Linked DNA regions of Homo sapiens. The protein of the gene in region 2 purifies or fractionates together with the protein of the main gene of each other region. This does not show direct contact. Each region holds a gene or a part of one and is shown on either strand. Other genes may lie near its edges.

The links. The genes of interacting proteins can lie anywhere in the genome.
Region 1: the proteins of CDH8 (region 2) and TMTC4 purify together in Homo sapiens (co-immunoprecipitation; 3 studies listed by BioGRID and IntAct, with this or other methods). This does not show direct contact.

Annotation. Positions count from the first base shown.
Region 1 is NC_000013.11:100,636,796-100,640,295, reverse strand, and holds part of TMTC4 (protein O-mannosyl-transferase TMTC4), read left to right. Parts: intron 1-1,441; coding exon of another isoform or gene 1,442-1,615; intron 1,616-2,273; coding exon 2,274-2,366; intron 2,367-2,593; coding exon 2,594-2,758; intron 2,759-3,500. UniProt on the Homo sapiens protein: Transfers mannosyl residues to the hydroxyl group of serine or threonine residues.
Region 2 is NC_000016.10:62,026,439-62,029,938, forward strand, and holds part of CDH8 (cadherin-8 isoform 1 preproprotein), read right to left. Parts: intron 1-3,500. UniProt on the Homo sapiens protein: Cadherins are calcium-dependent cell adhesion proteins. They preferentially interact with themselves in a homophilic manner in connecting cells; cadherins may thus contribute to the sorting of heterogeneous cell types.

The DNA of each region.
Region 1 (3,500 bases), on a different chromosome or scaffold from region 2:
GTTCTGGGTTTGTGGGATGTTTAGTGGCGTCCCTGGTCTCCACCTACTAGATGCCAGTGGGACCTCTCAATTGTGACAACCTAAAATGTCTCCAGACAGTGCCAAACACCCCCCTGGAGGGCAAAATCGTCCCTGAGAACTGCTGGTTTTAGAACCTTTCCCTAATACGAAGTGTGGTTTGAGGACCAGGAGCATCAGCAATATCTGGGAGAGGGTTAGGAATTCAGGATCCCAGGCCCCACCCCCTCCCCAGGCCTGCTGAGTCGGAATTTCCATCTACAAGGTCCTCGGGAGGCTCCTCTGTGCAGTACTTTATTTTTTATTTTATTTTATTTTATTTTATTTTTATTTTTATTCGAGACGGTTTCTCTCTTGTCGCTCTGGCTGGAGTGCAGTGGTGCAATCTCAGCTTACTACGACCTCCACCTCCCAGGTTCAAGCAATTCTCCTGCCTCAGCCTCCCGAGTAGCTGGGATTACAGGCACATGCCACCACGTCCAGCTAATTTTTGTATTTTTAGTAGAGACAGGGTTTTACCATGTTGGCCAGGCTGGTCTCGAACTCCTGACCTCAGGTGATCCACCCACCTCAGCCTCCCAAAGTGCTGGGATTACAGGCGTGAGCCACCACGCCAGGCCTCCTCTGTGCCGTTTTTCAGGAGCAGGAGAGAGTTCGGTTGAATTTACATGAATAAAGATACAGTGAAAGGTAGCTATTCTCAAAAATTGGATTAAAATGGGGCCATTTTGATGATGCATTTAAGAAGGAAGGGGGCAGTCTTGTGTTTGGCTCAGGCCTCTTCACCACATGAACCTGCCACCCCTTGGTAACTGTCCTGCAGCTCACAGGAAAACTGTGAGAAGACAATGGCTGCTACGCAGGGAGCATCTGCCTTCTAGAAAGTGGTTTTCAACCAGGCAGAAACGGTCTTCTGTGACCCACTAAGATCATGTCTCACATGGGTGAATAAAATCAGAATTCTTTGAACTGATTAACCCAGCACTGGCCCATGTATTAGATAATTAGTGGCTCCCAGCATTTCTGGGAGAGGGTTAAGTAGGGATGTCATCCTTGCTCTGAAAACCACAAATTACCACTGACTTCTGATGATGTGTGATCTCCTTTGCCGCAAAGAAGATCATATTAAAGAGACCCAAGTCATTTAGGGGCAGCTTTAACAATATCCACTGAGTATGTGCAGACTGCTTTATCCAGATTGGGCAGGGAGTTCTGTCGATGACACTGCCTGCAGCAGTGACATTTATAGAAAGTCCATGGCAGGAGAGAGAATAGAATCCAGGGCCCATCTCTCCTTTCGCCTGTAACTACAGGTTTAATTTTACCGGCTAGAAAGTAACTATCGTGGTGCTATTGGAAACTGTTAACATAGGTGGACTGCTAATTGAAGTTATTTGTTGTTCCCCTCATGGGTCATGGACAGAGCTGTAAATTGATAGAGGTGGCCGTCCTCCACACCACGGCCCTGCCTGGCAAAGGCCTGCTCTCATCAATGTGTGGTTTCCAAAGTCACCCTGTCCATCTCCATTCCAGCCAGCTGGAAGGGGAAACCAAGTGGGAATGTGTGCCCAAGTTTTACAACCAAACATCCAAAATGGTACGTGTCGCTTCTCCCACATTCCATAAGGCTAGAACTCAGCCCCGCAACCTAGTTTAACTGCAGGGGAGGCTGGGAGATGTCATCTAGTTGTAACCCAGCGAGAAAACTACTGGACAACTAGATTTCTGCACAAGAGATCTCCAGAGCTCCATTAGAGATTATCATGTGTGTTCATCCCATTTCTAAAGATGCCAAAGTGCACTGGCACTTAAGGTTCACTTACATGGCTGGGTTTTTGAGGTTGATGGCTGCCTTTATCTTCCAGTATGATTACTGCCCAGGAAAACACTCTGTTGCATGAACTAAAGGACTGTTTTATAGTGACCAAAAAAAGTGGGGAGGGGGTATCTCTCGAGGGCTTTTCCTAGGAATCCCAAATTTCTAGCTATCCTGAATCTTGTAGAACTCCTACACGCAGACTGTGAAATCATTACTATCAGGGGCTTACTAAATAATAAATATGATCTATTACCTTGAGCTAATTTCATAGAAACGTACGGCTGTTATGTGTTTTTTTAAAGAGCTGCAGAGGTCTTCCGTGATTCTCTAGTCTATGTGTTCCTTGTCTAGATTGAGTAATGAAATTGTGAAGTGTAATTGCTGCCTAACACAGCCAAGCTCTCCCGTGGCTGATTGTCTTGCTTTGCTTTCTTAGGGTTTAAATGCGGTATTTGACATCTTGGTGATAGGCAAATTCAATGTTCTGGAAATTGTCCAGAAGGTACTACATAAGGACAAGTCATTAGAGGTGAGTCTGTACTTTTATCTCCAGCCCAGACATGGAAAATGTCAAGTACCAGCTGATTTAAAATGCCATTCTCAAATATTCCTTGTGATTTTGAATTCTACAATAACCAGCCTTTTAAAGCACAGTGTTGAAGCAGTTCAGGCAGAATTGCTGCACATCTGTACCTGGCTCAGCCACACTTTTATGTGAAAATCAGCCACCTCTGGGGCTTTGCGATGTCCTTGCAGAATCTCGGCATGCTCAGGAACGGGGGCCTCCTCTTCAGAATGACCCTGCTCACCTCTGGAGGGGCTGGGATGCTCTACGTGCGCTGGAGGATCATGGGCACGGGCCCGCCGGCCTTCACCGAGGTGGACAACCCGGCCTCCTTTGCTGACAGCATGCTGGTGAGGGTGAGTTCTGAGCCTGCCGCCCCCTGGACTCTTTTCTTCCCCCACCAGATTCCCAGATCCCTCACCCCTCCTCCTCGTCTCACTCCTCTGCACGCCAACAAAATCCCCAATACACGCGCCACCTCCATGTTTGCTTGCGATCACTAAAGATGTTCTGGGATGAAAGCAGGTCTTCCTGAGGGGGTTGAAAGGGCATGCAGAAGCTCCTTGCATTTCCGTTCTAACAAGGAGTAAAGAGGGTGGTTCCTTCTCACATCAGGGTCCTTGCCAGTCCCGTGAAAGGGCTCCCTAACCCTGTGGCTGGGTTAAGGCTAAATATAACCTTCTTGGTGGTATCTTTAGAAGACTAGTGGTGTCAAGACTATTCTTTTAGATTTGCCTTTTTTCTAAAGGCAAGGGTATCAAGCCACAGATTCTTAGCTGTGCATTTCATAGAGACCAAAATCAAGAGAACAGCCATCGAAGCCTGTTATGTTATTGGGTGTATAGGTGACCCTGGGTCCTCAGATTTAGAGGTCACAGGCTTCAGGCAGCAAATAGATCATAGCTTTGCCAGAAATATAACGAATGTATTGCATAGTCTGATGGCTTTGCCATATTTTTATATACCAAAATCTGAATACATTTAATACATTTTTACAGACTATAGTCACATACCCAATACACGTTGGCAACATTTTATTTGATACAACTGCTTTCATTGAGCAGAAGCATATGAGTGCCTCCAAAGTGAAGTTAGTGC
Region 2 (3,500 bases):
CAGCTCGCAGCTCAGACCTCCTAGAGATAACCTAAAGGACTCAGTGGTGTGGTGGAAGAGTCACTTCCTCATGTCATTGAATGTCATGCCATGAACTACTTAACCACCGCTGTGAATAAAGGACTGAACACATGGATTTGGGGAAACCTTGAACTAGGGTATATGAATATATGCAATTTTATATGATGTGACAATACTTTCCTCTCCTCACAGATCTATTTTATGTGAGGCACTGGGAAAATTGCTGAGCTAACTGGTGTGTTCACAGGCACATGCATGCTATCAGGGAGAGTTGAGACTTGGTCTTCAAGGCAATCCTGCTAATTCGAGAGGGATGGGACTCTGCTGTGACACTTGGAACCACACTATTTGTATGCTTGTACCTCTGCCATGGGCAGACTAACACTGTCCTCTTAGAACATCAGAGAATGGCTTTGTAGAAACTTGTGAGATGCAACTGAGTCTTATGTCAGTGTTATCAGTATTAATTAATAACTGCGAATAGTAGCTGCATACACAAACTGCTTAACTTGATGCAAGGAAGAAGAAATTGAGCAAGGTTGTAAAGCTGGGGTAAAAGAAATCAATTTATTTTTACATTTTCCAACCACAGTATGTGTGTCTGACAAAGCAATCTACTTTATTATAATGCTGCTGCATTGATTTACACTCAGATAGTGAGATGAAGAGATTTTACAGTTTCTCTGGAATTCTTACATATACGAAAGTCTTTAGAATTCCCCCATATGATGATATATTTTCCTGGGTAAAATACTTAAAATCTGACTTTTCATTCATACTTACATTTCAGAGATAGTTCTAATTACAGCCTGAATTTCACTCTGCTGATTCCAACATTATTTTAAGATGAACTCAGTCAAGTCACGGATATATAAGTCATTATGCAAAAACATATTACACCATCCGTTTTGTAAATAATGTGGATTAAAGTTCAAAATGATGAACAACACACTGATAGGTGACGTCTAAAACAAAAACAGGCTTTTACAGACACTTCAGGATTCAATCCAGCAGATTATTGTGGTTGACAGGAAACTATGCTTTTATTATCCACTAGGCTTAGCAGCCACAATATTTCATGAAAGCAAAAATGACACAGAGGACCAGTGAGTTTCTATTAAAAATGTTTCTGACCTTGAATTTAGAGCCATTAGCAGCCTGTTTCAAAACAGGTAAATGCACATTGAATTCAAAGTGGTATTTCACGAAAGCAGGGGGTGGCGATTCAGTGTGTGACCCAGAGCAATTCACCCAAGCCCTGGCTGAATGGGGCTGAGCAGGTAGAAAAAGCCTTTGGATTTTAGAGAGGAAATACACTTGCATTTATTCAAATATAAATAATACAGGAAGATCACCTTTCCTAAAGCCTTCAGAATTCTCTAACCAGATTCCCTTGGCAGAAACATATTCTGAAATTGTTTATGTAAACACACACACCCACACACATACACGTGCACATATTATTTTGTGTATCCTTCACTCAGCCACAACCCTTCCGGTCATCCTTTCTGGCATCAGACCACATATTTATCCAGATGTCAATCTGTCCAAAAGCATATTGTTTGCTTGTTTTGACATCCAGAATAATATCTGTCAAATCCATTTTTTTTTTTTTTTTTTTTGAGTTGGAGTTTCACTCTTGTTGCCCAGGCTGGAGGGCAATGGCACGATCTCGGCTCACTGCAACCTCTGCCTCCTGGGTTCAAGCAATTCTCCTGCCTCAGCCTCCTGAGTAGCTGGGATTAGAGGCACCCGCCACAATGCCCGGCTAATTTTTTTTGTATTTTTAGTAAAGATGGGGTTTCACCATGCTGGCCAGGCTGGTCTCAAACCCCTGAACTCAAGTGACCCACCTGCCTCAGCCTCTCAAAGTGCTGGGATTACAGACGTGAGCCACCGCGACCGGCCTCAAATCCACTTTTTGCTCTGTTACTGCCATGTTACTCCTCTCTACCTGAAGTTTTTGTTTTCTTTAAGTTCTATAATTGCTGGTTTCCTTTGCAAAAATCAATAAATAAATGCCTCTCCTCCTCCTTCTTTCCCAAGGTAGAGTCACAAGTTTATTCTTCACGTAGAAATTTTTCTGTTACAGAAATTTCAGAATGGGGTGACTAAGCCAGTGACAAAGACAATAAAGTCAAAATAAGATCTCTTCTCTAGTGTTCTAGAACCAGACCTTTACTTAGAAAACTTTCTTGGAATCATCAGTTTAGTTAAGATATTGAGAGTAATTTTCTTCTGTTGGGCTTTTTAAAGGCAAACCAGTATCAAGATCATCCTAAAAAAAAAAAAACGAGTATCAGTCCCACAACTCCCTTGCCAGTTACAGACACAGTGGTGGCCAGAAAGTCATTTCTCGAGTCTAATCTAAATCCCTCCTTCTTTGAAGTCACGCCCTTTGCAGTCTTTAGATCACATGTTCAGAATTTAACAGCCAGAGACCTACTGAGTGACAACATTTCGTGCAGGTCCTTTAAATCATAGCAATCAATCAGAATCAACCTTCTTCTTATCAACCTTGTAATTCAGCCGAACTGTGGAAAGCCCCATGAGATAGCTGTTTAGAGCATTGACTCTAGAGTCAGATAGAAGTAGTCTGAATCACAGCTCTATCGTTCATGAAATAAGTCACCTGGGCACGTTTATCTTATTTGTGGCAGGTGAAGAAACTGATGCTCTGTGTTTAATACTACCTACTTTGAAAGATTAAGGAAGAAATAAATAAGGTAATTTAAAGTCTTTGTCAATGTAGCTATTGTAGTAACTATTTATTGGATGTTTCGAGTGCTTAACCGAAAATATTTACTGATTTTTAAAAATTATTTTATTGCAATCTCTTGCTGTGTATGTACTTCAGTGGGGAAAATTCCAATGTTCTGTGTAGACAGGTAATAAGTAAAGTAACTTTTTTAAACTCTTGATTTGTAAAACAAAAATGGCATGAACCAGGGTGGGTATAAATAAAATAGCATTTTAGAAATAGCTTTCCCTCTCCACAACTAACATACAATTAAAGCAATGACTTCGAGTAGTTTTATTAAGCCTCAGAAGGGCTGCATTTTTACTGTCCAGAACGAACCACATCTTTCCTTCCCATAGAAGACATGACATTGTCCATGACTATTTTCTGCCGAGAGGACAGAGTACAAGCACTACCTGTTCATGAGTGAGCTATTCTCTTTCAATCAAACTGTAGCCGCTCATTAAAAAACATTGCCTGGTACATATCTTTTACAAGATAAATTCCATTGCACTTCATAATCATCTACATTCCTGTGAGGACAGCACAAGTGGAAAGTCTCTACTAATTCCAAGATGAATCCAAGGTGATAGCTATATACTACTTAGAAGGGAGCTCAGAGAAGATAATGCTCGTCAGAGATTGCAACTAACTTTTTCTATTTATTTCAAGAAACTTTAGCATTGATGACAGAAATTAGATTTCTCTTCTCACTTAAGAAATGTGGAAATGGTTAAAA